4 separate regions of the Homo sapiens genome follow, and all the other regions are linked to region 1. The links come from fine-mapping of genetic effects on gene expression. A gene starts in region 1. Each other region holds a variant in brackets. All regions are shown on one strand. Distances are from middle to middle.

Region 1 (8,156 bases):
AGCCCCTTCCTGGCACTTTCTCTTGGAGCGCTTTGGGGAGAAGGGAGGGGGACTGGGCTCATTTGGAGGAGCAAAAGACAGCCCTCGCGGAAAAAGAAAGAAAAATCAGCAAAATCGCCTTAGCAGTTCAACCAAAGGTCAACAGCAGCGTTTCCCCAGCAGCTGACAGGTCAAATGGGCAGGAAACAACTGCGGGGAACAAAGCCCCCCGCTGTCCGGCAGGGGCGAACCCGGCTCCTCCGCACTGAACAGTTTTGTTGTGCTTTTTGGAGGGGAGAGGTTTCCGCCCCCTTTCCAGCTCCCTTCCTCCCGGGTGGACAGGTCGGAAGAGGAGCGGAAAGGAAAGGAAGGGAGGGAGGCGGCGAAGGCGCCTGCGGGGGGGAGGAGCGGCTCTTTGATGGGTGTGGGGGGGTCTGAACTGCCTACCGGGCTCGGAAGCGCAGACCCTACCCGCGCGGAAGAATGCGCGGAATGCGGCGGCGGGAGGCGGAGGCGCAGCGCGGCGGGGGGCGCCCGGACCCCACGCGCCCTGCCCGCTCCCTAGCCCGAGGGCCGCGGACCCACCCTGCCCTGCAGGTGTGGCGGGCGCCAGGTCCCTCCAGGGACTCGGACAGCACGCGATTTTTCCAGGATTTCCGACTACCAAATGTGACAAGACAGTCTCGCCGCCGAGAGTTTCGCCAGGGCTCGCTAAAATCCGGCACGCGCCGCCATCAGATAGTCGAAAATCCGGGCTGAACAAAAGGTGATCATTCTCCGCTGCCCGGATTTGCAGGCGCTAGAGGACCGGTTCCGCCCGGCGTCCCCCAGATACCCAGTCCTTCAGCCTCCCGCTCCCAGAGCCTGGATCTAGCCCGGGACGGGGATTGGCCACCTTCCAAGCTGAGCTTGGAGTTGGGCAGCGGGAACGCAGATACAGATCGCTCTACACAGTGTGTGCAACCCAATCTCCCTTTCTGCATTTGCCAGGGTCTTGTTTTCAGTGAAACTGGCAAGGCCAATTGTACCTCGGCGCCCACCCCTCTTCACCTTTTCTCCACCTCTGGGATTCTCCCGGTCCGGCTCAGTGTAGGGCCCCAGCACGCCAAACCAACAGGCCTATCTTGTCCCCACGCGCCCCGTGGTACTTGGAAACTGTTCCCGGGACTCAAGATGGACCGCGCAGAGGAGTCGCTTCATCCTCGAGGCTAGGACCGTTAATGTCAATAAACGGGGCCTCGCTAGGACGGTGCGGAATTGCAGGTGACCGGAGAAACCCGTCCGCACTTTCCCTGAGGACTTGAACCTCGCACTTGCACAGAAACCTTGCAAACCCCTACACACCAACACACACAAAGGGGCGCGCGGGGATCCCCGCAACCACGAATCACGCCGGGGACTCCTTCCCGTGCCAATAAGGCGCAGGCCGCCAAGACCCCCTCCATCTCCCCGACTCCAGCTAGCGCCCGGAGCCCTCGTTTACCTTTGAGCAGGCAGATGTCGGTGCGCTCGGCGTTGCGGCGCAGCGCCTGCACCACCAGCGACACGGTGCTGTCCTCGCGGAGGCTCTCGGCGCGCGGGCTGCGCTCGTCGTAGACGATGACCGCCGAGTAGAGGCCGGAGCGCAAGCGGGCGCGTACCTCCTCCTCGGCGGGCAGGATCTGCTCCAGGCTCACGGAGCCCTTAGCCCGCCGCCGCACGATGGTGTTACAGCGCACGTTGACCGAACCTAGGATGTAGCCCGCGCTGTGCGCCAGGAACGGTCTGCAGTCCAGCAGCAGGCACTTGCCGCCGCTCGGCAGCCCCAGGGTGCCGTGGCTGCCGCTGCCGCCCGCGCCGCCGCCATTCTCGTCCCGGTTCATCAGCCTTTTGAGCACACTGCAGTCCATCTCCCGCAGCTCCTCCATCGTCACCATGGTCGCCGGGAACCGAGGCGGCTGGGCGCGCGAGGAAGAGAAGAGAACCCGGGCCGCCTAGGCTGCAGAAAGGGGCGGGCGAGAGCTAAGAAGGGACGCCTGCAGAAGTGGCCGCAAACTTGGTCCTCAAGGGCTCCCGCGGGAGAGCCTCTTCTTCCCTGTCCCCTTCCTCCCGCAGCCTCGCGGTCACATAGCAGTCGGAGCGGCCTCGGGCGCCCAGCCGGGCGGCGCGCAGAGCGGAGGGGGAGGCGCCGGTGGAGGAGAGTGTGTTTACGAGAGAGGACCGCGGACTCTTTTCGGCGACGGCCTCCCGTGTATTTTTGCCGGTCGCGCGGCTCCTGTCGCCACTGGCGCCAGCGCTGCCCTGCCTACGCTCCTCCGGCGCTCAGCGCACTGCCCCAGCCAGAGTTTTCTCCTCGGCTTAGAGGTTTATTAATGCTCCTCCGCGCTCCCGGGGGAGGGGGCGCTAGGTACTACCCCGCCAGGCCCCGCCCCGTTCCATTCCGGGCCCCGCGCCGTCCCCCGCCCCCCGCGCTGTCCCCCGCCCCCCGCGCTGACTCCCCGCCCCCTCCGGGCCCCTCCTCCCACCCCCTCCCCGGAGCTTGAATGGAGCGCGGCCGCTGGCTCCCGGTCACGGGAACTCGACGTCACAAAGAGCGGAGTAAACAGGGCGCCGGGTGCTCGCCATCAGGCCCATTCATAAAACCGAGGCCGAGAGGAAGAGGGAGGCGGCCTCCGACCCGCCGCCAGCGGCGGGCAGCGCCCGGACTTTGTGAATGGAGCGCGCGGCGCCTTTCGCCGTCTACCCGCGGGCCCAGCCTGCGCCGCGCCTCCAGCCCGACACCGGCACCTGTGCCGCCGCTGCACCCCGCCGCTAGGCGGGCGGCGCCAAAGGAAATAGCCGGCTGAGGAGGCCAGGGCTCGGGTTTGAGCTTTCATCCCTTGGCACCTTCGCGCTTCCCCGCGTGACAGCCCCGTAGGTTTTTCCCGGTTACCCAAGTGGAGAGGGGACCGGAGCGCTGCTGCCCACCCAGCGGGGCCTGACACCTCCTAGCCCCAGACTCCCCGTGCGCTTTCGGCCCGGCCAGTCCTTTCTGAATATGCGATTCCTGAGACGTTAGCGTATGCATTAGCGTGATCGATTTTCATCTAAAGCCATTAAATCAGTTTTATAGCTTCCCCAAGAACGTGGGCAACCCCCTGCTTGGAAGATGAAAGAGAAAGTCCTCCCGCCCGAAGCCCAGGATCGGAGTGAGGTGTGGGGTTTGTTGCTTTACTACCCAAAGGGAGGCATTAATTGCCGGAATGGTGTTCCGAGGGAGGAGAGCAGGCTGCGCTCCTGTCCACGCTTCCTAAAAGATGTTTATTTAACCCTGGTCGGGGGAAAAACAAGGTTTTCGGGTTTGGGAAACGTCTTCACCCTATCTTGCATAGTTGTGAATTATCCTTTCAGGAAATGACAGGGTCCACATTTGTTGCGGAGCTGGACCCTGGAAAATGTACCCGCAAAGAATGACCTTTTGAAAGGACTTCAGCAGCTCTGGGTCCGATTCATGTTTCTGGGCATCCCTTTTTCCTGGTCACGTAGCAGCCCTCCCCATCCCCATTTCTCTTTTGCATTTAATTTCCCAGAGGCGGCTTTTGGCTGGGGGTTTGTGCACGCACGCGGTGGGGACCGTGCAGAAGCCAAAAATCATTCGCCCGACATCTTGCCAAGTCTTGTTAGTGAGAATTAATCACAGAGCAAGGGAGTTACAGGACTCGCTCGCAGTTTCGGAGGCTGCAGAGTAGCGTATTCCATTCCGGGGCGCGCGTGGAAGCCCGACCCAGGCAGCGAGGGCACCGGTACCCGCCGGGTCTCTCCCGCCCAAGCTCACCCTCTCCCCATGCCTTTGTTCCGGGCGGAGCGGCTTTCCCGAGCTCTCACCTCCGGTCCCGGGGGCCATCCCTGCACTCCCCGACCGGAGCTCGGCGGAGCCTCCACTTCCGAGACCTTCGACTGGCCTCGTCCCCCACTGGGCCCCGAATGCCTCGACCCCCGGGCCCTACTCGGATGAGCTGTAGGGGCACCGCTTGGGCAAGGTGATATTTCCTTTTGCTCCGGGCTCCAAAATGGCTTACGATGGCACTGCACGGATCCTTTCTCTTTTTAAAATTTAGTATTTTATTCATCATGGATTTTTTGCATTTTTTTTTCTTTTAAAGAGGCATTGCATCAAGATATTTCTTTTGATTACTGACTTTTCGGCGCCCTTCTTAAATGTTGCGCTCAAGGCTTGTGCTCACCCTAGTCCAGGCCCTGGAAGGAGCCACAACTGTGGACTGACCGAGGCTGCCCGGTGGCAGGACCCTGGGCGTCGGGCACTCCGGGTGGGAGATCAGTGGTCAAAGCCGCACGGCGTGGCCTCCCTGTGGGGAGGGCAAAAGGTGTCTGAGTCCAGTTTCCCATTCTGCTGAATGGGACTGTGGGGGTCTATCTAATAACTCGCTTTCGATAAGGAGCAAGGAGCCCCAGGGGCCCCGACAGTCCAAGGCTGATTTTGCTTTCCCGGGTTGCTCTCCAGCAGCTCAGAAATCCGCCGCCTGCCAGGACCCAGGGCCGGAGCTCTCCCGGCGCAAGTAAACACTGATTCCTTTACAAAGGCTTTAACAAGACATTTCTGGGAAAAGCCTCTCAGGAGGCAGGTCCGGGCCAATTTCACGCGTGTCGCAGGAGCTGGGGAGACGTCCCTGGGGCGCACGGGTCGCGCTCTGGGCCAGCTTTTGTCTACCCTGTTCTGGGGTCGCCTTCCCCGCCGGACCCGCGCCTGGCGCTCACGTGGCCAGTAAATAACAGTCAAATCCAGGGGGAGGAAAATGCCCATAGAACAAAGAGGCTTGCTTTCTGCACCTGACAGTAATCGCTGGTGGAGAAGCCCTAAATCCCGCAGGCGATTCACACGGAAAGGGGTGTGGGAGGGCGCGTGTGAGTGTGTGTGTCCACGTGTGCGTGCCCGCGCCTACGCGGCTGTTCACTGGAAGGGAGTCACAGCTTGGGACTTAATGTGTTTAAGCCGAGAGCCACTTGAATTGCGAAAGCGAAGGCCTGATTTTTAAAAAAGACTAATTTTTAAAATCCACACCCCATTGCCAACTCAGGAATTGGCCTTCAGTTGTGTGAATTTCAGCAAAGGAGATTTAAGTTACCATATTGTATTTATCGGGATACTGTGTAAACACCCTAGATATATATTTTTTAATTGTATGTTTGTGAACCATTGGTCCACAGTTAAATGAGTACAACGCGAGGGCTACTCCATGCCGGCTATAGATAAAACCTGTCTCCAATTCGTCTGCAGTCTGTGGACGAAACATAACCATTTTAAACAGGAACCTTGTGAAACAGCTTGTCAATGAGCAGATCTTGGAGAAAACAAAGGCAATTTGGAGCAAGACACGGAATGTCATTTCAAAGTTAATTTAATTAACTAAGGCATATTTGTAGGAATTGGGATGGGATTGCCCAAGGAGAGGTCTTTTATTTATATTCAGCAGTAAACCTCGGGGTGAAAGAACTTTTAAAAATTCGCTGTGACAAGTAAATCCAGCTTCTCTTTCATCAGTCAGTCCTTAGACCGACCTTATTAGTCACTGTCAGGCTCCAGCAAAACACCTGCTCTTGTTTAGGAACATTTCTTTCCAATTAGGAAGTTGTATGATCGGGGAATCTAAAGCCCGGAGTAGAATCCCCAGAGAGAAGTACAGCTTCTATTCTAGTTTTGATGCCAACCTCTGACTCACTGCTCTGTCCCAAAGTGCCTGAATAAAACTTGCCTGAAAAATCATTAATGAATTAATTAAGGTGGTGATGGAAAGAAAAGTCCTGTGGCTTTTCCTTTCTTGAGCAAAGAGGCAGCCTTGCTATTACGTCGAACTGGAACAGGAATAATCCATTTTGCACAGATCTTGTTGGTTAGGCTTCTTAGATCAACTAATTAGGGAACTTGCCCCCTGGTAGTGGGAAGGCTCAAAAGAACTGGGAGACCCTCTCCTGCTCCTGAAAGCAGAGAAGCCTGTGGTCTACACAGCGTGTTCTTAGGCAACGTTTAGAAATGGAATTGAGAAATGCCTGTCCTTCCCTACGTACCTCTGCCCATCAAGTCAGGACTGAAAGCGAAGGAAAGTCTTCAAAGTTCACACTGAACCTAACCAAAAACTCTCAAAGACATAGCCTGAGGATTTCTTTTTTTAAGTCCTGACTTTGTTACAGATCTTTTTTGTTTTCTATGCTTGATACTCTAGCACTTATTAATGATTTAAAAGGCTATGTATCGGCCAGGCGAGGTGGCTCACGCTAGTAATCCCAGCACTTTGGAAGACCGAAGTGGGCAGATCACCTGAGGTCAGGAGTTTAAGACCAGCCTGGTCAACATGGTGAAACCCTGTCTCTTCTAAAAATACAAAATTAGCCAGCATGACGGGCGCGCACCCATAATCCCAGCTACACTGGAGGCTGAGGCAGGAGAATCGCTTGAACCCGGGAGGTAGAGGTTGCAGTGAGCTGAGATCCCCTCACTGCACTCCAGCCTGGGCGACAAGAGCAAAACTCCATCTCAAAATAAATAAATAAATACAAATAAAAAATAATAAAAGATTAAGTTTCTAACCCAGGGTCTCTGCAGAAAGGTTTTAATGCATTGCTTTATTTACTGCTTTATTTTAAAACTATTCAATCTAGGCTATGCCACCATCTAGCTTGGTGGCCTTGGGCAAGACAGTCTCCTTTGGCCTCACTTTCTTCACCTGCAAAATGAAGAGTTTGGGCAGGATGGTTTCTCAGGTCTGGTCTATTTCCGACCCTGTATGATTCTGAGCAGAAGAAGACTTCTCAGCTCCGAGTCCAAGTTTCATAGGTTTCCCATCTCGCCCTCTGAAGAGCCAAGCACACTATAATGCCATAAGATAAAGGACGATCTCTAGCTCCTCCTTGTCCCTGCTTTAGAATATAAACTCATGGACAGCAGAGCTCATAGTTTTTATTTATTTGTTTAGTCACGTGCTAACGTCCCAAGCATTTTGATAAAACGTCTTCAAAATTTCAGAAACAAATTTTGGAAAGAAACACTTCTCCAAACGGGATAAAAATGAACTCGGAGGCTGGGCATGGATGGTGGCTCATGCCTGTAATCCCCCAGCACTTTGGGAGGCTGGCGGATCACTTGAGGTCAGGAGTTGGAGACCAGCCTGACCAACATTAAAAATACAAAAATTAGTCAGGCATGATGGTGGGTGCCTGTAGTCCCAGCTACTCGTGAGGCTGAGGCAAAAGAATCCCTTGACCCGGAGAGGCAGAGGTTGCAGTGAGTCAAGATTGGGCCACTGCACTCCTGCCTGGACAGGGCGAGACAGCGAGACTCCATCTCAAAAGACAAACAAACAAAACAATACAAAACAAAACTAGGTTATTTGGGGTCACTCTAGCTGTGCAGATTCTCTTATTCATTCAACAAACGTGCTAGACTCAGCAAGAGGTGCGGGAAGTAGGGGGACAGATTTGTCCAAAACACTGTGCCTTCAAAAAGCTGACAGTCTCATTGGTCTAGTCAGGGTGTGATTGCCACTGTACATTGCCAGAAAGCAGGATCTAACAAAGTGTCATTAGAGAACAAACAGCATGCCAGGAAGATTCAGAAGAGAAAGGGATGGAGCCGTGTTGTGAGATTAGGGAAATGGAGGAAAAGGCCATCATGAATAAAGTGCATTTCATCTACTTAAATGTTATCCTTGAAATGTCCTTGAGTTCTCTTGTAGGTTTTTTTTTTTTTTAAACTGTTATCTCACCTCTGACATTCATTCTGCCCTTGTGCCTTGTATTCTTTTCCTTTCATTTGTTAGCATCTCTCTTCCCCAGTGGGTTTGCCTGCTAAAAATAGATGAGCAATTGGTGTGAAACTACAAGGGAGCTAAGATGATGCAAAAGCTCTGTAGAAAATCTGTGCCATGGATGAGCAACCGACCTAGATGGTAGCTGACCTAAGTAAGGGCCCGACTCTTTCATTGCCATCTTAAGCAAGTCAGTTGTTCTGTACTTTGATTTTACCATCTGTAAAACAAAGGAAAAACAATGTAATTATTGTTTACATTTTATATTTACTTTTTTCAGGACAACAAAATGTCTAAATCACCTTTCCAAGGCTTCAACAATGAATGTATTTTCCAAATCAATGTTGGAGTACATGGTCAGAAAAGATGTCTTTTGGACTTGTGAAATTACTTATATAA
Region 2 (8,156 bases), 330 kb after region 1:
AAAAGACCTTGAAAGGTTGTCCCGACTGGGGTAAATGTTAAGGAAAGATCCTCTGCTGGGAGGAAAAAAGATGCGCTCAACTTGTTTTCTCTGAAGGAGAGAGTAAGGAAGAGCTGGAGAGAGAGAGTCTACACCCTGCTGACCGCCCAAGGATACACAGTTAGTGCTTTTTTTTTTTTTCAGGGGTCTTCCAGGGACTATTAGGAATCTCTGTGAATTAGAAGCTGCATTAGTGGGTTCTTACACTGCTAATAAAGACATACCCAAAACTGGGTAATTTATAAAGAAAAAGAGCTTTAATGGACTCACAGTTCCACATGTCTGGGGAGGCCTCACAATCATGGTGGAAGGCAAAGGAGTAGGAAAGGCCTCTTACATGGTGGCAGGCAAGACAGTATGTGTAGGGGAACCGCCCTTTATAAAACCATCAGGTCTCGTGAGACTTATTCACTATCATGAGAACAGCATGGAAAAAGCCTGCCCTCATGATTCTATTACCTCCCACTGGGTCTCTCCCATGACATGTGGAGATTATGGGAGCTATAATTCAAGATGAGATTTGGGTGGGGACACAGCGAAACCATCAGCAGCCAAAACACATTTTTACTGTTACAACTACATTTCTTGCAGACACATTTTAACTCAAATAGTAATTTTCATTTCTTGGCATATCTACATGTCCCTGGGAGACCTTCAGGACATAGGTAATATGGTGTTGAGGTCAGAGAATTGGACTTAGACTCAAAAGACCAAGGAGTGGTCCTCAGCTCTACACTCCTCTGCATGTGAGGCTCCGGTTAAGACATTAACCCTTCAACACCAATTTTCTCACCTGGACAAGGAGAATAGTACCAGCTTCAACCATCAGACAGGAATGCTGTAGGGATCCAAGCAAGAATGTCTTTTCCCTTTCTCTTCTCTCCACCGCCATCCTTCCCTCTCTCTTTCCTTTGTCTTCTCCTGTCTCAGCCTTCCATTTCCTTCCCTGGAGTCAATGGGGTGTCAGCAGGGCAGCCATGTGAGAAGGTAGCCTCATGCAAAGTAATAGAGTCCCCCACCAGGAGACTCTCCTAGCAGTGGGGTGGTCTGGATCAGAGTGTCTGAAAAAGCCTGAGAAAGGTGAGGAGGAAACCCACATACAATGTAGGTTGGCTGTGGTCCCAACCACAGGAAATTGGCTACATAGAGGGAGATGGGTCAAATAAATATATTAAAGACAATGGGAGCCAGGCCTTCACTGTTGAAGAAGGGAATTACCAACATGGAAAGAGAGAAAATTAGAATAGATCCAGTAATGTTAAATTAGAGTTGTTTTTAGATAGACGTAGAAACAAATATAGATGTAAATGCAAGAGTGTGTGTGTGTGTGTGTGTGCTCTCCACCTCTGTCCACTGAGAGATCCTAGGATCAGCAACCCCCCAGTAGCACTGAGAACACTTAACACCCCATGTTGATGCCCAAATACCATGTTTCATTAAAGGAATTCAGTGCTCCTTGGATAAATAGATGATTCCATAGCTGGGGCAGAGAGAGTACAAGATGTGCCCTGCTGTACCAGAAATTAAGGGTGTGTTCTAAGAATGATGACAATACTGGCACCAGCTTGAAGAAACTCCACACTGACCATATTTGAGGCAATTTGACCATGAATAATGGTAGTAGCAAATTATAACCTATTGACTAAAAGAAGAAACCATGAGTCCAGAAAGATATGAATCCATGAATACTGGTTTGATGAGAAATGGGTAGTTACATTGTCTCAAATGTCCCCTCTACAAAATATTTAAGAATTATAAGGAGAAAAAGAGTAAGACTACACTGGAGAAGCCTGGCAGACACCACCCTAATCAACTTATCCTAATGAACAGCATCCGTAATGGAGTAAATTGAAATGACGTGCCATCAAATAGTGTGCACTGAGAAGATCACAGCATCACTGCTGGGATATCCTACTCAAAGATGCATCATGTGAATCTAACCACAAAGAAATAACCCTCTTCTCCAACAGTGAGAGCTTGTGAAAGAACATTCTGCAAAATAACTGATCTGAAATCTCCAGAAGTGTCAAGGTCATGAAGGAAAGTCCAAGGAGCTCTTCCAGACTGAAGAAGATTCAGGAGACATGATAATTAACTGCCATGTGTGATCCTGGACTACTGTATCTTTTCACTGTAAATGACATTATGGGAAGATTGGAAAACCTTGAACGAGGTCTGAGGATTAGATGGTGGTAATGTATCAATGTTAATTTCTAGACTTTGGTGGTTATATTGTGGTTATGTAGGAGAATATCCTTGTTTGTAGGAAATACTAGTGCTCAGGGTTGATGAGAAATCATGTTGACAACTTACTCATAAGTGGTCTGGGGAAAAAGATTCCTTGTTCTGTATTTGTAATTTATCTGTAAGTTTGAGATGCTTCCAAAAAAAGAAAAAAACCCAAACAATGATGCACATCTAGGTATCCTAAGAGATAGAAAACAATTTACAAAGGACAGATGGGATGACGTCATCCCCTGCTCTTCCATCTGCTGTTTGCTCTGTGTGAAGCCATCACCACACCCTTCCACTTCTACTTTCAGATTGTGTCTGTGCTCTGACTCCTTTATCCCTTTCAATATCATCCCTTGGTTTAGGTTCTCACAGTCACTCAACAAAGCCAAGACAACAGCCTCCAAGCTCTTCCTCCTGCCTTTAGTGTCATCTTCTCCTTCTGTCTCTTCCACCCTGCCCCCAACCACCTGGCCTTCTCCCCATACTGTTGGCCAAGTGACTTTTCCAAAACCCACATCTGGTCATGTCACTGTCCTGCTTAAAGTCCTTAAGCCTAGTCTCCCCAATGCCCATAATGAAGTCCCAGCTCCTTAAACATCTCATATTCTGGTAGTAGCCTGTCCTTCAGCTACTTCTTTTTTGTTGTTTATCTTTTTTTATTGATACAAATATGTGTACACATTTATGAGGGTACATATGTATTTTGTGAGATGCATAGTGTTTGCAATCTCCAAGTCATGGTATCTAGGATGTCCATCACCTTGAGAACTTATCTTTTTTTGCATGTGTTGGGGCCACTAAAAATCCTCTCTTCTAGCTATTTGAAATATACAATTCATTGTTGTTAACTGTAGTCACCCTACTCTAGTATTGAACATTAGAACTTTTTCCTTTTATATAACTGTATGTACCCATTAACCATTTTATCTTCATTCCTCACCCATCCACACACTATTCCCAGTGTCAAGTATCTATCATTTCACTCTCCACTTCAATGAGATCAACTTTTTTTAGCTCCCTCGCATATGAGTGAGAACACACAAAATTTGTCTTTCTGTGTCTGGCTTATTTCACTTAACATAATTTCCTCAATTTCCATTAATGTTTTTGCAAATGACAGGATTTCATTCTTTTTCATGGTTGAATAGTATTCCATTGTGTATATATACCACATTTTCCTTATCTTTTCATCCACTGAAGGACTCTCAGGTTGAATCCATATCTTGGCTACTGAGAATAATGCTGCAATGAATATGGAAGTACAGGTATCCATGATTTATTTTCCTTTGGCTAAATACTCTAGTGGATTGCAGGATCAAATGGTGGTTCTATTTGAAGTATTTTGAGAAGTCTCCATACTTTCTTCCATGATGGCTATACTAATTTACATTCCCATTAATAGTGTATAAAAGTTTTCTCTACATCCTTGCTAACATCTGTTATTTTCTGTCTTTTTATTTATAGCCCTTCTAACTGGGATAAGACAATATGTCACTGTGTTTTTGATTTCATTTTCCTGGTGATTAGTGATGTTGAGCATTTTTTCTTTTCTTTTCTTTTTTTTTTTTTTTTTTGAGATGGAGTCTCGCTCTGTTGCCCAGGCTGGAGTGCAGTGGCACGATCTCGGCTCACTGCAAACTCCGCCGCCTGGGTTCACACCATTCTCCTGCCTCAGCCTCCTGAGTAGCTGGGACTATAGGCGCCCGCCGCCACGCCCGGTAAATTTTTTGCATTTTTAGTAGAAACGGGGTTTCACCGTGTTAGCCAAGATGGTCTCGATCTCCTGACCTTGTGATCTGCCTGCCTCGGCCTCCCAAAGTGCCCAGCTGAGCACAGGCATGAGCCATCGTGCCCAGCTGAGCATGTTTTCATATACCTATTGGCCATTTGTATGTCTTCTTTTGAGAACTATCTATTCATATCTTTTGCCCACTTTTTAATGGGATTTTTTTTAACTGTTGAGTTGTTTGAATTCCTTG[C/T]ATATTCTGGATATTAGTCCCTTGTCAGATGAATAGTTTGCCAGCATTTTCTCACATTCTGCAGATTCCACTCTGTTGATTGTTTCATTTGCTGTGCAGAAGCCTTTTATTTTAACATAGTCCTTATTTTGTTTTGGTTTTGTTGCCTGTGCTTTTGTGGTCTAGCCATAAATCCTTTAGCTTCTATTTCTACAACCTCCTTTCCTGGTGGCTAGGGCAACACTGAACCACTCGCTTTCCCATAAGCCCACTGGTACCTTCCAGCTTCCATGCCTCAGTAATGCTATTTGCTCAGCTTTCTTCTTCCTGAAAGACTCCTGCTCATTCTTTCAGATTCAGCTCAGATATCATTTGCTCTCTGAAGTCCTCCCTGATCCCCACTGCCCTACCCCAGGCAAAGCGAACAACTCCTTTTTTCATGTTACAGTAACTCTTCGTAGAAATCTCTCTCCTAATAGCTATCATTGTAATGCCATTGTTTGCTTTCTTGCAGTTGACCCTCTCCAGATTTTGAGCTCTTTAAGGGCAGAGACTGTGTTCTAACATGGTTGAAACCAACACAGTGCCTGGCACCACGCTGTTATTCAATAAATGCCTGTTGAATGACTGAAATGATGATTTGGCTGTGCCACGCTGTTTGGCTTTTGGTGGCATTGATGTTGCCATTCCTCTCTCCTGCTGGATTAGAAAGGCCCTTCAGTAGCTGGAGGAAAACTTGATGAGTCTGAGACATGCATAGTTATAGTTAAATAAGAAGTTTTGCCCACCAATACTAAGGTATGCTTTCCTTTCTTTTCTGGTCAGTCCTGAAGCACTTAGAAATTGCATGCCCTTTTTATCTTTTCCCCATATTAAGAAAGATTCTGATAAATCTTTCTAATTCCTCACTCTCTATAGAATGGGGGAGGCTGTTTTACTGGAGTCCCAGGTGGGCTTCCAGAGTGTGGAAGAGTGGAATGGATGGTACAAGCTGGAGTGGTCACTATTTATCTCTATCAGTGGGGGATGCCAGGACTCGGAATGAGCAAAGGTAGAAGCTGCTTAGGAGGGCAAAGCCCAAAATGCTAATTGGAGAACCAGGTCCTGCATGAAACCTGGTGGAAGCCAGAGTCAGGCATCAGAGTCCAGTAGGCGCCTAGAGATTGGAGGGAGAGAGGGAGATGAGGCTGAGCATCATTAGGGCAGAGGGAGGTGGTATCATGAAGGGTTAGCCTCAGATGCTGCTATCATATGGCCCTGACATTTCATTTGAGAGCTAGCAGGGGTGCAGGGGGTGCAAGGGTGAGTTAGTGGATTCCTTCAGAGGGTCCAGAGTGAGTCGTGGCACTGAACCATGAGTGATCAGTAGCACTTCTTATATTATCACAAATACTTATTTTTCATTTGTGCTATGGCCTTTCTGCCTTTTGTGGTATTCCAGGTATCAGAGAGATACATCTATAGGGGAGAACCTAATGTTATTCTTGGACTAGTATAGTCATGTGTGCTTGGAACTGGATGGTAAAGCCCTGCCAAACCCTGTTGGGCCCTGCTAAACAAGGCAAAAATATATTGCCCAAGGCATCAAGTCTCAACCCCTGGGGAATCTCCAAATATTCCAAGTTAAACTAATTTTAAAGTTTTTCTAATAAAAATTATGCAATATATCTGTCTTTAGACTAGTCCAAAAGAAATTAGGGAATGAATCATCCCATTTAGAAAAAAAATTCATAATAGAATATTCTTTTATAAAGCAAGCTGCCCACATGTATTTAAAAAGAGTTGGGAGGTAGGAAAATTCTAACAAGTACACGAATGACTAGGAGCACATCTATAGAAGTCAATTCCACCATCCCACATGTCCGGGACAGATGAGCCACTCTCACGAAATCACACAGTTCAACAACTGAAGCTCACAGGGTTGGAAAAACATTGACTCCAAGCTTGTGATTCACAAGTACAATTTGAACATTTTTGTAAATCCTCATTTTTTTCATTAATTCAGTATTTACTGAGCATCCACTACTTAGCTTGATCCTGACGCTATAACTGGGAACTAGGTGAAAATAATCTTTACTGCTATCAAATGTTATTCTAGTAAAGAAGATAGACAATGTACAAATAGACAAGAAATTTTTAAAGTTGCAAATTATGATATGTGCTGTGAAGGCAGCAGCCAAGTAGCTCAGATTGTGTGTTGAGAGAACAGAGTGGGGAGAGAAGTTGGGAGGTACTGCTTTAGATGGAGAGGCTGGGAAGGCCTCTCTCAGAGGTAGCTTTGAGTTGAAACAAGCTCACTGTTAAAGAGCCAGATGATGCACAGGAGAATTCCAGGCAGCGTGAATATCATGCACACGGCCTTGGGTAGAAGGGAGACTTGGCCAGTTTAAAGGATGAAAGGAAACAGAAGAGAGTGTTCCTAGAACTTAGAGAGGGTGTCATGACATGTGGTTGAATTGACAGGCCGGAAGAAGATCATGCAGGACCTTGGAGTTCATTCTAAAGGAAATGGGGAGCCACTGAAGAGTTCAAAGCAAATGAGTGCTCTGATTCAATTTATATTTAACAAAGAGACTCTTGATGGCTGCTGAGTCAAGTTGGAAATGGGTAAACCATGTACATGCTGTACCAGTTGTCTAACAAGCAATAATAGTGTTCTGGATAAAGATGGAGTGAAGTGGATGGATGTGAGATATATTTTGGAAATAGAATTGACAAAGTCTGCTTTGGGTTAGATGTGAGCTTAAAGGAAAGAAAAAATTAAGAATGACTTCTGGGCTTCTAGATGCACAGCCAGCTGGTGCAATTTTCCAAGGTGGGGAAGATGTGCAGAAACACCGGCTTTGAAAATTGGTATACAGGGAAAATCAGGAACTCATATTGATGTTAGATGGCTGTGAGTCATAAACTGAGATGTCAGATAGACAGCTGGATAAGCGTGTCTGAGTTTAGAGGTGAGGTTAGCTCTGAAGAAGAAAATAAATGCATGTATATAACCACGTAGGGGGTGGTTGGCCTACCTCAGGGCCAATTCTCTTACCCTTCAAAGGTTTAGACATCTTCTCAAGACAAAATCTTGGAGGTGATATGTGTCTTTTGCATTATAATTACTGTGTTATTTGCACACAAAGTGTCTTACCTTAGAAAGTACACACCAGTTGTCAATTACTGAGTGTATAAGAAGTGTCAGGCACTCTACTTACATGATCTCATTTAATCTTCAAAATGTTAAGAGACATAGAGAGCAGATATAAGAACACCTAGAGGGCAGATAAGGAAATGGAAGCTCAGAGAGATCAAGTAGCCTCCCTACCGTCACACAGCTAGTGTTTGGCAAAACTGAGAGAGGAACCCAGGCCTCTTGACTCCAAGGTCAGGCTCCTGCCCTCATGGACTCTCCTCCTTTCAGTAACAGTCTCTTATCTACCCCTCATGGGAGAGCAATTTTTACAGCACTACGATAGTAGAGAGGCTATGTTAGCTGAAATTTGGGACAAGACACCAGACCATTCTGAGCTTCTATTTCTTCTACTATAAAATGATCTATCTACTATGCAGATTGCAGATAGGAAATATAGAAAATATATCAAATAAAGTATAATATAAATCCTATGCAATATATAGTTATATGCACACATAAATACATGTAAAATGGGATATTGTGCAGCCATTCAAGATGACTGCAAAATTATTTTACTTTTTAAGATTTTTAAATTGTAAGATACTTCAAACAAATAAAAGTACAGAATACTGTATGACACCCACATATCCATATTTAACAGATGTTAACATTTTGTCTTGTTCACTGCAAATATCATTTTTGTTGTTTTATTTTCAGAAATAAAACACTGTAGAATCACAGGTGCAGTTATTAATAATATACCATTCTCCTTTCCACTCCATCAATAACTGGTCAGCATGTAA
Region 3 (8,156 bases), 200 kb after region 1:
AGAACCTTGTCATATACATGGATTCTGAAAAAATGTCATGGCTTCTGACAAACTAATCTAGCATATGCCAACCTAAGGGCCCTGGGCATCTATTTTCAAACTTATCCCTTGGGGTACCACCACCAGCTTGCCTGGGATTACCTGATCAGGTAGTTTAGAGAAGATAATAATTATAATAATTGAGACAGTCATGATAGTAGTACTTACTCTTCCTGCAAAATGATTAGTATGATAGTTCTGCTGCCCATACTTAGGGAAATGATACTTTCAGACACGGAAAGGATGATGATATGAAATTGGGACCTTGTTCTGATGGAAATGCTTCGAGTTTTAAATAGCTTCAAACTTTAAGAGTTTCAATACAACAGAAGCTCTAAAAATCCAGGGTCTTTGAGTAGTCTTCACATCTCTCTGCCCAATTCCAGAGATGCACTGAATTTGAGCCTTTGAGGAAGAGGGTAATCTGTTCTTTATATTTTTCTGACTTTTAAAATCAATCTTATACAATGGGTAATCATCATTTTACAATTTATACAACTTATAGTAATAAAAACGTTTGTTTAAAAAAAGTCTTGCAAAGTATTTTTGAATGTTTTAAAACATTGTTTACTTTAGTATATTTTGTGTGAACTAGAATCACTGAACCTAAATAGCACATAGAAGGAAGGGAGAGGGGAGTTGGAAGACATTTTTTCCTAAAAGGGCAATGGGTAGTAAATTGCCCAGATTCTGGAACCTTCTGTCTCAGTCCAATTCCTGACTAGACCATTTAAAAGTTGCATGAATCTTGGATGAGTTACTTAACTTTACTCTGCCTCAGTTTCATTGTCTGCAAAATGGAGACCTCATGTAATGTTATGAGAATTAAATGATTTAATATATATTAAATGCTAAGGAAAGCTTGGGCAGATAGTGAACATGACTTAAGTCTTAGCCATCATAATTATTACCCCTCTCAGAATCATTCTTTAGAATAATTCAGCCTTTACTTTATTGTACTTATTTATTTTAAACTACTTTTATATTTATCAAAGTTATACATAACCTGGTTAAAAGTCAAATTGTATTTAAAGAGTAATAATGAATAATAACAGTCTCCATGTTCACAACGAATCTGTGATCTTGCTGTCCAGAGGCAGTTACTTCCAATCCATTCTTTTAGCTGGTTATTCTGGTTTTTAGTTCCTGGGTTCTAAATAATAAGTATAAATGGTTATTTCTTGATTTATCAGTTTTAGACATTATCTATCTACATGTATTATAGCAGTCGAGTTGAGCTTTTGTGCACTTCCTATCCCATTTCTCTGATTCTACCAGTGCAATGAGGTTCCATCAAATTTATGGTTAAATCAGATTTGGCATTTACTTTATTATGGTTATATATGTATTGTTCACTTCTAAACCAAGTGGTGTGCTATAATTACATTTTGCTTTAGAAATTTTTGTTTTTATTGGAGATAATAATTATTTTTTAAAAATTTACTAAAATTTATTTAATTCTCCACCACACTCATGATTGCTGAGGTCTATCCAACACCTTCCATTTTGCCTTCAAATGGTCAAATATTCTTGATAATTGATCAATCCCATTGTGCTTCGAAGACAACTGCCCCTGAGCCATTTATCCTTCTAGTCCAGTCTGTACTTACTGCTACCATAGTCCTACTCCCCAGTTTCCTCCTGGATTTTCCTTGCACCTGTTCTGTGTCCTGCATCCTCATCTTATTTTACTCCCTTATTTTTCTGGAGCACATCCTCTAGAAGCTTATTAAGAAAAGGTACATTAGAGGAAATATTCCAGACTCCTTGTATATTTGAAGATATCTTTATTCTCATACTTGATTGATAATTTAGCTGGTAATGGAATTCCAGGTACATCCATAACTTCCCTCAGAATGTTGAAGTTAGCATTGGTTCAGTGTCTCCTGGCTTCCTGTGTTGCCGTAGAGCATTCTGATATATTTCCAATTTCATTTCTTTTCCATGTGATTGTTTTGTTCTAAGTGCTTTTAGTATCTTCTTTTTTAAATGGCTGTCATACTTCAGTTTGGATCTTTGTTTATTCATTTATTATGCTGAGCACTTTGTGGTTACTTTCAATCCAGAGACTCATATTATTTTGTTCTGAGAAGTTTTCTATTATTTCTCTGACAATGTCCTCTCTTTGTTTTCTTTATTCTTTTCTCAGAACTACTATTAGTTGTTCGTCAGATTTCTTGAATTGATTCTTCACATTTCTCATGTTTATTCTTCAACTTTTCTTCTCTTTGTATTTTCTGGCCTTTGTGGGCTATTTCCTCAAATTTATCTGTCATTCCCTTTACTGAGCACTGGAAATTAATGCTTTATTTTTTGAATGAATAATGTATGCTTTTGGTACAAAATTCAAAATTACTAATGAGAATGTAGATACAAGTTAGCCTTCTTCTGACTCTTGCTCCTTAAATATCCAATTCATCTACTTGGTGGGGATAAATATTCACAGATGGGACAGCACAGAGGGGAACAGAGGTTTAGGGCTAACAAGCGGAAGTATTTTATGGAAGTTCGCACACTGAATGATGCAAGTCCCGGTTTTCTTTCTCCATCTTGTTCCTGGAAAGCAATCAACCAGGCATATATTCTCCTAGATAGGAAATGGTTGGATTACTTGGCTGGAGAATATAACCTTGGCTGTCAATATCATTGGGTCTTTTCTCCTGGGTTGGTAAGATTCCTCAAAGTAGAATATTTTAATATCTTGCTTGGAGGGCATAAGCCTACTGCTAACATTTTGAGAAAAAGAGCAAGCATGGGAGTGAGTGTTGTCTCTATTTAGTATGTCAATTTCTACTTAATTTTTCTGTTTCTATTATTGTACTACCATCTTCAACTATCCTTGGTCACTAAGTTCAGAGACTCTGTTTTACCTCCTTTAGAGAATGTTAAGCCTTTAGTGTTCTGCTGGGGTGGAGGAGGGAAAGTCATCTGGTTAAGTTGAGTAAGGGAAAGGATCTATTGTTTTAATTGCCTTTCTATGCTTGAAATTGCATAATTTCTCTTGATTTGTTTTCTTGTTTACTGACACTTTCCTTTGTTATCTCCTTCCTACTCTTCTACCTAGTAAATATTTTATTTCAGATATTATACTGCTCAGTTCTAGAATTTTTCTTATGTTTCTATATCTTTTCTAAGATTCCCTATCTTTTCATTCATTATAAGAATATTATCTTTTGCATCATTGTGCACAGTTATAATAGCTCCCATAAAATCCTTGTTTGCTACTTCAAACATCTGGGTCATCTCAAGGTCAATTTCTGTTAATTATCTTTTCACCTGAGAATGAGTTGCATTTTCCTGTTACTTCATATATGGAATAATTTTGGATTGTATTCTGGGTGTTGTGAATGTTATGTTGTGGACAATCTGGGAGAGAGTTGTTGTTGAATTTATTTATTTTAATAGGCAATTGCTTTGGTTTGATTCAAGCTAAAAACTCTGATTTTTGGTGATAGTTCAGATCTCCTTGTAGTTCCTGCATATTTAGCTGATATGTGTGCAGTTTGCCCTGTGCATGTGTAGCTAGGGAGTAGCTCAGAATTTACACACTTAATTTGTGGCTCCCCTTCTTTGGCCCCTCCTTTCCAATATTACCCCTTTATTTCCCCTGTGGTTGTGGCTATAGTGGCCCTGAACTCTTTTCTCTGGTTCTTCAGACCAGAAAGACTGCAGATTTTCTATTGGAGTTTTAGCAATGCCACCTGGCCACCTTTCCTAGGTCCAAGAAATAGGAAGAAAAGGGAAAATTACTCTGCTACCTTGTGCCATTCCCTTATTCCAAATGGCAACTCCCCTCCAGAATCTACCTGCTTTTGTTCACTCTGCAGTGTTTTCGGATTTTTTTTAAAAAGTTGTTCAAAGTTTATTATTATTATTTGAGGCAGAGAGGTCCAGTGGGAGTTTATTCTATTAGAGGTGAACTCCTAACAGCTTGTCAACAACCTTTTAAATAACTCTATTTACCATTAACTCTGCTTCCAAAGTAACCTGGTACCACTAATTTCTGAGCTTTTTCAAGGTTCTGTGGTATAAATGACAATAGTCATGGTTAGTATATTCACCTCTAAAAATTATTTCAGTAAGCATAAATAACATGTAAGCAAAGTGGGAGGTAATGAAAGATTGTGTCATACAACATTCTAAATCAG[A/G]CAGAATTCCTGCTGCTCTTCCATTTGGTCTCAAAATGGCATTGGCTAGGTTTTTTTCAGCCTCATGTTGGCCAAAATAAGAGCCTTTCTTTAAACCAGTGTTCTAAAACATTCATCATCTCAACTGTTTTGGATTATCAGTTGGCTGCAAACCAGGGGGTCACCCATGGCAGCATGGTACAGACCATGTCTGTAGGTTTTCTTTTCTTTTGATTCCAATGAGAACATCAGAGAAACAAAGAGCACTTCTTTGCAAGATGGACTCTTCTAGAGAAGATGGTCGGCCAATGGACTGTGGAGACAAAGGTCAGAATTGTGGTCCCTTGGGGCATCTCATCTTGTTAGGATCATCATGGTCTCCTCAGGCTGAAGTTCATGAGCCATGAGTCCCCAGCACCTGATTCCCTCAGCACCTGATTGTTCATGAGGTTAGAGCAGTTAATACTGAGACTGTTGCAATTCTGTGAGTAAATAAGGTTTTTATTTCTGTGTTGGAATTTCTTGTTTTGTGCACCTGGTTTGGATATTTGGTTTATTTGCATAAGAATGCACACGTGTAGCTTGGGATTCAACTCAGAGAGGGACTTTTAGAAAAGTCTAAAGTCAGAGGGGACTATTGTCTATGTGAGTACACTTTTTAAAGCATCCCTTTCATTAGCTATCAAGGCACAAGCTCTGTTTCCTAAGGAAAGTCACCCCAAACAGCTATTATATAAACTACAAAAGAAGTAGATGTGGACATAATTAAGCACATTTTTATTTCCAATTGAAATACAGTTGGAAACTCTTTAGGGCTCAAGTCAAAACTTTTGGCTTTGTTCCCTGGTCCAGAATTCAAAACAATTTCTCTCTCTGGAATTGTAATCGTTTTTTCTGAAGATTATTGAATTCAAATAGCTTGATATGGAACTAATCTAGTCTAGTTGAATTTTTGGAATTCTTTAAATTCTCAAAAAGGTTGAATTTATCTGGTGCTCAGTAGATGTGAACGAGCAACATCCTAAGGTGTTCTCTGAGCTCAGAACACCCAAATTGTTTTCTTCCTGTAGAATTGTTGTTAAGCCCTGAGGTGCAAAATTTTCCCTCCCTCCCTCCCTCCCCTTCTTTTTCTTTCTTTCTTTCTTTTCTTTCTTTCTCTCTCTTTCTTTCTTTCTTTCTTTCTTTCTTTCTTTCTTTCTTTCTTTTCTTTTCTTTGCTTTTTCTTTTCTTCCTTTTTTTTTTCTTAAATTATCTCATAGTTTTTCGTACTTTCAGATGGGTAAATTGAAACATTGGAAGGGTAAGCATTGGACTTGTGTCTTGGTCACAAACGCAGGTTTTGGGGGACAAAGGCAGAAGTAAAAGACAGATCTCCTTCTCCAATTCAAGGCTGTGTGAATTCTACTACTGAGCCCTCTATGAAACATTAACTCAGTGGTTCATCCCCTGGGGGACCTGGGACCGTAGGAGGTCTTTAAAGGAAGCAAGAGAGATTTTTAAATAATTTTCATTTTTTCAAGAAGTTCAACAGACTTTGCACATTTCCCAAAATAAAAGTGCATGAATTAACCAGAATGTCATGGTATTTTTGCTTTTGATTAGAGTTAAATTAATTCAGTTTGATAACATTGAATATCATCCTGATCTGAAGCTTTGATTACAGTTATATATGCCTTAAATGATTAAAATGTGAAAATAGGTTAATTATGTCTTAATAAATTCAGTTTATTTGATACATAGAAATTTATAAAACCTGAAACTAATCAGAACAAAATATGACACATTTTCACAACTCCCTATGAGTATCTTAAACAAGTAGAATGCTAAGGCATATGAAACTCTAAAATGTATCTATTTCAAGATTTTTCTGGAAGATTTTATATATTTTTTTCTGTCTAGCTGCCTTAACATGAACAGTATAAAGCCAAATTATTCTCTCTTATACATTTAACATTAATTATGACAACAGTTCATTGACCAATGTCCACCAATGATGGACATCAGCTGTTTAGGATTAATTATGGGTGTATTGACTTTTCTAATCCCCACTTAAGGGGTTGAATATCTGTAGATGCTGATCAGACATTTAAAAGAGGGTAACAACACCAGTATTATATTGAGAAACAATGAGAAAAGCTAAGTTTAATTCATCATTCTGCTAAAAGTCAATCAATAACATTTTTCATGTGTTAACAACAGTTAATAAAGACAGTTAAGCCAGTTTGGAAAGTATAAATGGAAGAATAACTTCCTGATTTCATATGACTCATTAGGCTCATCAAAAGACTTTTCTTCGAGGAAGCACTCAACTTGCTTCTTTGAGCTAATGTTACAGGTTGTGGTTTTCATAATCATGCCGTGATCGCTGTGGCTTTGGGCGTCACTTTTCTGACGCACCTGGCTCCATCTGTTTTAGATACACAGTCCAGAGTTCACATTGCTGAAGGGCAATGACTGAGATCATTGTTTCCTCAAGGTGTGCCCTTTAAAGGCTAAATCGATGGCGAGATGGGATAGGCTCTAGGGCTGAAGAACACATGATGTGTTAAGTTTAGGTCACATTCTTTCCTAGATATCTGGACACCAGATATGATTATGGAGTATTTCTTTGTCCTAAGGCAAGGTCGTGCATGACCTCCACTGCTGTCTGCATGCAGGTGCCCATGAACTTGGAGGCAACACCAGAATGTTCTAAGTATTATCACTCACAGGAATTCATATTTGTATGATTGCTGAATGTCTGTTGGAGCATATTACATAAAATACTGCCGGTGACGGAAGCTGCTTAATCTACTCAGAGTCCTCATGTGCAAAGGAAGGGTAAGGCAGATGGTCCCTAAGGACTCCCCTACCCCCAGGCTCTGGCCAGCTTTCTGTAACTCTAAGCTTCCTTGAATAGAAAGCCTCAGAATAGAGATAGCCTGGTACGACACTCTTGACCAAGTTAATACCAGACAGGTGGCAATTTACATGTGTGAGAGGCTCTCATTTGAAAGTGGGAAAGCTAGGTGAACACAAAACCTATGCCTCCAAGTATAGATTTTAACCTTAAAAACAGAAGTTTCACACACGGAAGACTATTCTTTTCCTTTCATTGTTTTGTGCCAGTGTAGAAAATGACCAATAATGACACTTGTAAATATCTTCACTGGAATCTTGTATCCCTGGGACTTAAAGGGTTAACAGTTAGAAGACTTTAATTGTATAATTTTCTGGGTTCCCAGACATGCCTTTAAAGGTCTTCACTTCCTCTTTGTCTTTCATTCTAAGCTCTCTCTCCTGCACAAGACCTGCAGGGCCTGGCATCTGTGAGCACTCCAATAAGTATTTATTACTAAATTCAGTTGTCATTCATTTAGAATGTACTCGGTGCCAGCCCCTGTTTTTCTAAGCCTGTCTTATTTAACCTTTACCATTACCTCATGATTTACTCTTATCCTTATTTTACAGATGAAGAAATGCAGATTTTTGGGAGGCTGAGTAATTGGCCTGCAGTTATATAAATGTGGAAAAGCAGGCTTCAGACTAAAGCACGTTTGACTCGAGAGCTTGTGTTGTTAATCACTTTGCCATCTTGCCCCCCTTCCTTTTGTTGTATAGATGAATAATATGTGCTCTTTCACTTAATGAAAAGTGTGGTTTTGGCAGATCTCCTCTGCTTGAACACATCTTCTGTGGTGGAGAGGAAGGGGCTTGGAGGTAGGAATTCTCTCACCAGCTTCACCAGGAAAATAGAAATATAGAACCTAGTACCTAGTATACGACCTAGAAAGAGCAGATTTCACTCACCAGGAGCAAAGTGTCATGTAGGGACATGTAGAAGTTTAAAAATACATACACATAAAGCAAATATCCACATTTTATAGGGGTACAACCAAGCAAAATGATATATATTAAATCCACTGGATGGTTGCTCTTGGGGGTGGAAATAGGAGTGAAGAATAGAGTTAGAAGACAGTAAATAAATACATAAACAGGAAAGGGGCCTTC
Region 4 (8,156 bases), 120 kb after region 1:
AGGGGGATAAACAGTCAAACCATGGCACCCAGTCTCAGGTATTTTGTTATAGAAGTACATATGGACTAAGACACCTTTGATCCAGCAATTTTACTTCAGGAAATTTATTTTATAGAAATAAATTATACACATCTCCAAGGATAACTGTACAAAAGATATGTATTGCAGCATTCCGTGTAATAACAAAAAACTCAAAATAACTTAAATGTCTATTAATAAAAGATAGGTTAAATAAATATGGTTCATATATAGAATGGGATAGCCATGCAGCTATTAAAAAATATAATAAGGAGACTCTGTAGATACTGACATGGAGAGCTGTCCAAGACAGAGTTTGATTGAAAACAGTAGGATGGGCTGGGTGCGGTGGCTCACGCCTGTAATCTCAGCACTTTGGGAGGCCGATGCAGGCGGATCACCTGATGTCAGCAGTTCCAGACCTGCCTGGCTAACATGGTAAAATCCCGTCTGTACTAAAAATACAAAAATTAGCCAGGTGTGGTGGTGTGCGCCTGTAGTCCCAGCTACTCAGGAGGCTGAGGCAGGAGAATTGCTTGAACCTGGGAGGCGGAGGTTTCAGTGAGCCGAGATTGTGCCACTGTACTCCAGCCTGGGTGACAGAGCCAGATTCTGTTTCAAAAAAAAAAAAAAAAAAAAAAACAAGAAAAAGAAAAAAAGGAAAGAAAAAAGAAAACAGTAGGATGTCCACTTTATGTGTTTAGTGTGACTACATTTTTTTGATGTGTTGGTGGGGAGTACTTGTATATTCTTAGAAAATAAAAACACACATCCCAATCTCTTAACAGTGTCTACCTTAGGGGTCTGAATTGTCTGCATTTGGGTGGGGTTATTGGAAAATATTGGACTTTTATTTTATTTTATTTTTTTATTTATTTTTGAGACGGAGTCTCGCTCTCTCACCCGGGCTGGAGTGCAGTGGCATGATCTTGGCTCACTGCAACCTCTGCCTCCCAGGTTCAAGCGATTCTCCTGCCTCAGCCTACCAAGTAGCTGGGACTACAGGAGCCTGCCACCATGACCAGCTAATTTTTGTATTTTTAATAGAGACAGGGTTTCACCATATTGGCCAGGCTTGTTCGAACTCCTGACCTGTGATCCGCCCAACTTGGCCTCCCAAAGTGCTGGGATTACAGGCGTGAGCCACTGTGCCTGGCCTTAATTTTAATTTTTATATATGTCTATACTCTTCAGTTTTTTTTAAAACAATAAACATTTATTTGTTACTATTATTTTTACTTATAAAAAATACTTTTTAGAGACAGTCTCATTCTGTCACCCAGGCTGGAGTGCAGTGATGTAATCATAGTTCACCGTAGCCACGAACTCCTGGGCTCAATGATCTTCCCACCTCAGCCTCCCGAGGAGCTGGGACCACAGGTGCGTGCTACTATGCCAAGCAGCATTTATTTTTTATTTTTTGGCACATACACAGTCCCCTCAATCCTCAGAGGAGGAAGAGATAGCCTTGGCCTCTGCTCCCCTGCTTTCTCATCATAGAACGTAAGACAGTGTCAGGGCTGAGTCAATGGAAAGGAAATGTGTTAAATCGAAAACATTAAGGTGACATCACCTTGTTGAAAGCCCTCAGGGACATCTTTGACATCACTGACAGACAGGTCCATTCCAGAGTGCATGGGATTTGATTTGTAAACTAGAGGTTTGATGGGTCTGAGTTCACAGGTAGGCAAAAATGCTGCTCCTCTGAATGAGAAAACACTGAAAACAGCACCCAGCCCACGCATCACCCAGTTTTAAATATCTCTTGGTGGGATCATTTCTGAGCCCCACTATCTTGTGGCAAACCACGTTTTCCATGGTGCCCAACAAGAGTTTACACACCTGCTTGTTTTCTATGATTTACTTCTTCTATGGCTGTATTTGTGCAAACCATACACAGTGGTTGACAGAGAGATGAAGGTACTCGCCTTTCTATGAATGGTTGAGAAACTGTCTACAAACCCTTTCCTGGGTGGGTAAACTCGATGTTGCCTGACCTCACAAATGTTAAGAAAAATAAGATTACATCACAGTACTATCCAGGCCCCAATTATGCTGGATCTTTCCACCCTGTCAACTGTAGAACCCCAAGAGCCTTTCAAGGTTAGTCTTCTCCTTCCTGTAGAATGCCTGGGAGTTCCCTGGAGGTATCTTTAATGTAGACAATGATCTTTGGCAGCCTCTTGTCCCACCACTCTGTGTTGGCCTCTGGGGTATATGTCTCTTGGGATTCTCTTCCCACTCTGGCCAGAACCACAGCTTGCTGCTTGTAGGGCTGCTCTCCCCAGGCACCTGTGGCCTCCTCAGTGGGGCTGCCTCTCACACCACGGATGCAGACATAATCACAATTTTTTTCCCTAGTGTGCTTCTAACTAGATGGAACTCAGTGGGTAATAGAGGATACTATGGTATGGAATGCCACCTAACTCAACAAGCTATATGCATCTGAATCTCTGCTGTGGGAAGCTGAGACCCTCCACCATACTTGTGAAGCACTGAAAGGACCCTCCAGTGGCAATGTGAAAGACTATTGGGTAAGACAAGTGAGGAAAAAAGCAATAATGAAAGAAAAGGAATATAGCTGAAGACTAAGAGGGGCAGCAGGTAAACTGCTAAGAGAATGATGAAAGAATTTTAAGGCTAGTGGGTCAAAGATTTCACTGTTTCAGTCTTCAACCGGAGGCTGAATGAGTATCTCTGAGGGATTCCATGGCGAGAGGTTTTACAGAGTAAATCTTTGATATTTGGGAAAAATACTTACTAGAGTATTTACTAGTACTTACTAGATACTTTGGAAATCCCCACACATACAGATACCGTTATAACAGAATTTAATGTTAGAAATTTGGGTCAGAAGAAAAATATTAGGGCCCCAGCAAAGTATGTGAGTTGGGCATTTAGCAAGGCCAACTCTTTAGCCAACTGACCTGCTCCTTCACCACTGGCTCAAAACTTGGATTCAAACTTGTACTCCCTCATAATTACAAAAGAGTATGTCATGGATTTTGAGATCATGTGTCAACAGCTGCAACTGAGAACATCATGCAGCAGAGTGCTAAGGATCTATTATACAGTGCAAGGAGTTGTGTTGGGCCATGTCTAAGAGCTCTCCCAATTTGGGATTATCACAATGAAGTGTGACATTATTTTCCATCATACTTCATTGACCTAAGCAATTTACCCACAAAGGCTAGATCTTCAGTTCACACCCTGAACAAGTCCTGTCAGCCTGAGAATCCCTCTAGATGAGCCTGTTTCTTTAAAACAGTTCTCAGCCTTCTCCTGGGCTTCAGCCAGGCCTTGATGGCCAGGGATGGATTCTGTATTTTTCCGTGCACATAGAACTTCTTTGTTCCTTCTTTCTGACTTATTTTCCTCCCAAATAAAGGGCAGAGGAAAGGAGATTATCGAAGAAAGTCTGGCAAATGGGATGCAAGTTATCCAGTTGTACTATTCAGTGGGAAAATCTGGCTGTAAGCCTAGGAACTTAAAATGATGTTTCTAGATTTGAAAATATAATCTCAAAATGCTTCCATTTTGTGAAGGGTCAGTCCCCAGCCTCCATGCATAAAAGATAGACGGGAAGGACTAGGCAGGTGGAGAGTCATGATCGGGGGTACAGGGAAGAGTGAGGGCTTTTAGAAAGTGGTGTGGCTATAGTTCAGAGTCCTCACCCACCTGGGGTCGGGAGCTGTGGGTTTTCCTGTAGTGCTGCCTCTGAGCACTGTAATCTTGGGCACATCACTTTGTTTCTTTTCACAACTGAGTATCCTCAATGTAAAGATAAGAAATTAGGCTGGGCATGGTGGCTCATGCCTATAATCCCGGCACTTTGGGAGGCCGAGGCGGGTGGATCACCTGAGGTTGGGAGTTCGAGACCAGCTTGACCAACGTGGAGAAACCCCGTCAGTACTGAAAATACAAAAAATTAGTCAGAC[A/T]TGGTGGCACATCCCACTGTAATCCCAGCTACTCGGGAGGCTGAGGCAGGAGAATTGCTTGAACCCGGGAGGTGGAGGAGAGCCAAGATTGTGCCATTGCACTCCAGCCTGGGCAACAAGAGCAAGAATTTGTCCCCCCAAAAAGAAAAAGAGACATTAGACCAGATGTTCTAGAAGATTCCTTCCATCTCTATCAGCCATGGATCTATGATTGTGATTACCACCCCTTCTAAGGAGCAGATTATAGAATGATGGATTTAAGACAAACTTACTAGTTGGTAGAGGTGAATAAATACCATTGAATTTATCAATGAATAATTGTTCCAAATGTAATCAGCTATTTGTCTTTTCTTATAAAACAATGTACACTGGATTTTTGGTTTTAACATTAATAAGAATGTAAAAAATATTTTAATTCACTTTTCAAAGTGCTTTCACTGGTATAATTTTTTAAGGTACTCCCGTCACAAAGAGGGAGTTAAATATGTGGGCCTAGGCTGGGCGTGGTGGCTCACGCCTGTAATCCCAGCACTTTGGGAGGCCTAGGCAGGCAGATCATGAGGTCAGGTGATTGAGACCATTCTGGCTAACACAGTGAAACCCCGTCTCTATTAAAAAATACAAAAAATTAGTGGGGCGTGGTGGCGAGTGCCTGTAGTCCCAGCTACTCGGGAGGCTGAGGCAGGAGAATGGCATGAACCTGGGAGGTGGAGCTTGCAGTGAGCCGAGATTGTGCCACTGTACTCCAGCCTGGGTGACAGAGTGAGACTCCGTCTCAAAAAAATAAAATAAAATAAAAAACGTGTGCCTAAAAGGCTGAACTCAGTCCGGAATTTTCACCACAGTCTCTTATTTTGGCAATAGAGAGATGCAAGAAGTATTCTTTCTGGGATGACATATTCTTTGCTGGCAGCAGGCAGGTGCTGTGGTGTGTCCCTGGCCATCTTGGTCCCACAGGCCAGCTTTGTGGGATGAGAGATGGACCTTGGTGACTTCTTCCTCTAAGACATTGCAGACCTACTTCACTGCTTCTCATTTCTAGACAAAAGCATTATCTCGTAGCAGCACCTGGAAGCCACTACAGTGGGTTGGCCTTTGGTCCCTTTTGAGAGTAACAATTTTTTGTGGAAAATGTATTTTAGGAAACCTTGTGTCTGGGTTAGGTGGAATCATTAGCAATGATTCCATCACATACTACATTCTCTTCTCTGCCAATGGCTTTTTGATCAATGGCCTCTGTATGACAGTTTATGAGATATTGAATAGGCTACATGGGCCCATTCATTGTGTGGATAGCTTGCTCCTGCAGCAAACTGCAGGCCCTACATCTAGCATACAGGGCAGACCAAGCACTCCCTTGGGCATTCTGAAGGTTAGAGGCCACCTTATACTCTGCCTGAGACAGTGGCTTTCTTTCTTGTGATAATAATGTTTTTATTCCACTGAATCCAGGTACGTGGAGAAATTTCAGAATAATCAACTTATTTGTTTTTGTTTTTCTTATAAAAGTGTTGCACAGACTAAATGCACTAATTTAGGAAGATTGCATAGATCAAATCTTGGTAGAAGTAAGCACTCACATTTTAACTATTATTATTGTTATCATAGATTGTTTGGCACCAATGAGCTGCAAGTTGCAACGCAACTCAATCTGAAGAGAAGGCCCAGATACCCTCTAGTCTAACCTCTCACTTTGCAAATGAGTGAACTGAGGTCCAGGAAGGAGGCAAGGCTTGCCCAAGGTCACAGAATTCACTGGTAACATAAATATAATTAAAAATTCGTGAAAAATATTTACTTAGATATGTATCTTTGAAGCCAGCCAGCGTTTTCCAGCATTTTTTGAGACAATGAAGTGGCAGGATAATCCTGGGTCCCCTAGAGAAATTTTGGAAAGGTTCTCCTATATAATAAAGTCACTTAAAAAGGAAGAATTCATTGCATTTTATCCAACTGACCTGTGAGGTCCCTCCACGGAACTCCAAGGAGCCCCCACTTATTCTGGCCCTGGGTTCCTTCAGAGGTGGCTAGGCTAGAGCTGTGTCTTGGGATTCCGTACAACTGCCACCGCTGGGAGAGATGGAAGTTCTCCATGTTTATGGGAAGCCGAATTCCTCCAATAATAGAAGAGAAAGAAACAAAGTTTGTTGGAATTTTTCATGAATTCTTCCTTTTTAAGTGACTTTATTTTATAGAAGGCATTTGTATTTAGTTTGCTAGGACTGCTGCAGCAAAGAACCATAGACTAAGTGACTTAAACGACAGAAACACATTGCCTCACAGTTTTGGAGGCTGGAAGTCCAAGATCAAGATGTCGGCAGGGTTGGTTCTTTCTGAGGGCAGTGAGGGAGAATCTCTTCCAGACCCCTCCCCTGCCTTGTTGTGTTTTCTGGCCACATTTGATGTTCCTTTGGTTATAGAAGTAATACCCCAATCTCTGACTTCATCTTCATGTAGTGTTTTCCCTGTATGTGTGTCTGTCTCCAAATTTCTCCCTTTTATAAGAACATTTGTCATGTTTGATTAGGGCCCCCTCTAATGACCACATTTTAACTTGATTATCTCTTTAAAGATGCTATCTTCAAATAAGATCACATTCTGAGGTACTGTGGGTTAGGACGGCAACATATGAATTTCTGGAGAACATGACTCAACCCCATAACAGCATTGAATAATTTAGACAAGTGAGGATTGTGTCTGCTTCATTTACCATCGCATGCCAAGCGTCTAGCACAAAGCACGTCACATATTGGGCTCTCAAATATTTGTTGAATTAATAAACACATAGTTATCCTTATCTAATTATACTTGGTGTTTTTCAGATTGGCTTTTCATGAGGTGTTAATTTTCCCTCAAAGATGCAGATTATCCTTGGTGATGTGGGAATTGGAAGACTGTGCACTCAGTAATCCCCCATCCTCAGGGTAGCTAATTTCATGTCAGCATCTTCTCACACAAGCACTTTAAATTGCACTATTTCCAAGTGGTAAAACTGACTGACAATGACTTTTGTCTGTCCTGTCTGGAGCCTGGTGGTGGGTACATTGAGCAATGAATTGATCTGAAAGCAGTGGCGGTAGGAAGAAGAAAAGCTCCTGAATAACAGAGTTGGCAAATGCCTTCCCTGGAAATCCTATTCTGCCTTTGACTTCTGATGATACCAGGGTAGGATGACACAGGAACATCTGCATGGTGCTGGCCATGGGAATGCTGCCTGGGCGGATGGGGAAGTTCTCACAAACGTCTTTGCAACTGGGGAAAAGCCAGTTCTTACCTATCTGTGTCCCATCTGCAGGAATAGTAATGCCTTACAAAATTAAACCTGGACTCAGAGGCCCAAGTAGTAAATCCTGTGTCAGTCCTTTATATTTCCTATTAAAGTTGTCCATGCACATAAACAACAGATGGAAGAGATTAACAAGACGTATTATATTCAAGTACAATAAATTGGTCTGAAAGGTGGATGTCATGCTCTTATTGGGCAGAGTGTAAGTTCGGCTCAAATGCAAGGCTTTATTGTAGTGTGCTATGAGACTGCCTGGGTATTTGGGGAAAGAGGACCCAAGTCAGGAACCGAACCCATTTTAGACACCTGTAGAGCCTTTCCAAAAAATAAGAGCATCCAGATCATGCCCCTTGAGCTGTGTTAAGAACAGATGACTATAATAAAAGCAAAAGAGCCCATGACACAGGATCTGGTCACTTGTTTATTTCCACGTATTTTGCTCTGTTATGTTTTGAAGTGGGTGAACTGGGCTGTGCGAGTTTGCCTATGTGGCCATCTGGGCAAAAACTGGAGAACAGATTTCAGGCCCCCAGTTCTTCTGTTTGATTGGAAATTAGCTTCCTCCTTGGACTCCAATTTGCAATGTTTAATGGAATAGAAATGATTGGGAGCTCGTTGTTGACTGTTCATGTTAGAGAGAAGCTGTACTTAGTGCCACACTTCAGCGCTTTGCCCATTTATTGGTTCACTGCAGTGAATGTGAATAGATTGCTGCTCCTAGGCACTTAGACACAGCATTCTGGGGTTCAGACCAAGACCAAGACTCCGATGAGTCTGAAAGAACACAAGACAACTAATTAGCTGTGGGGCTGTTTTACCTTCCAGCCCCAAGAAGTCAGCCCAAGTCCAGCCCATGTCAGAGGATATGGTTCAGGGTTCAGAGGGCAGCGAGGGCATCTGGACCCTTTGAGAAA

Direction of the effects. Alleles are on the strand shown, and positions count from the first base shown. SD is a standard deviation of normalised expression in the study named. Not every link is listed here.
With allele C in place of T in region 2, the expression in fibroblasts of the gene that starts at base 2,301 in region 1 is higher (large effect, 0.92 SD a copy in GTEx).
In carriers of allele A in region 3, the expression in cerebellar hemisphere of the gene that starts at base 2,301 in region 1 tends to be lower than with G alone (large effect, 0.83 SD a copy in GTEx).

What was found.
Region 2: its variant is fine-mapped to the expression of DUSP4 in fibroblasts (GTEx, PIP above 0.99).
Region 3: its variant is fine-mapped to the expression of DUSP4 in cerebellar hemisphere (GTEx, PIP 0.94).
Region 4: its variant is fine-mapped to the expression of DUSP4 in whole blood (INTERVAL, PIP above 0.99).

The regions. Positions count from the first base shown.
Region 1 is chr8:29,348,384-29,356,539 of GRCh38, forward strand. It overlaps DUSP4 (dual specificity phosphatase 4), which reads right to left and starts at 2,301. Exons shown (of 4, transcript NM_001394.7): 1 at 1,463-2,301. The coding sequence starts at 1,895. LOC124901924 (a long non-coding RNA gene) reads left to right here and starts at 2,591. Exons shown (of 2, transcript XR_007060876.1): 1 at 2,591-3,151; 2 at 8,038-8,156. RefSeq lists silencers at 419-588, 2,159-2,478, 2,669-2,808, 6,998-7,296 and enhancers at 1,299-1,800, 1,329-1,478, 1,801-2,300, 2,999-3,068, 3,109-3,218.
Region 2 is chr8:29,678,581-29,686,736 of GRCh38, forward strand. No RefSeq gene overlaps it. Among named protein-coding and RNA genes, the nearest start is that of LINC00589, 65 kb to the right of the region's middle. RefSeq lists an enhancer at 2,695-2,744. The variant C/T (reference allele first, on the strand shown) is at 4,254.
Region 3 is chr8:29,548,977-29,557,132 of GRCh38, forward strand. No RefSeq gene overlaps it. Among named protein-coding and RNA genes, the nearest start is that of LINC02948, 9.2 kb to the right of the region's middle. RefSeq lists an enhancer at 6,183-7,382. The variant A/G (reference allele first, on the strand shown) is at 4,188.
Region 4 is chr8:29,470,898-29,479,053 of GRCh38, forward strand. No RefSeq gene overlaps it. Among named protein-coding and RNA genes, the nearest start is that of LINC02948, 87 kb to the right of the region's middle. The variant A/T (reference allele first, on the strand shown) is at 3,957.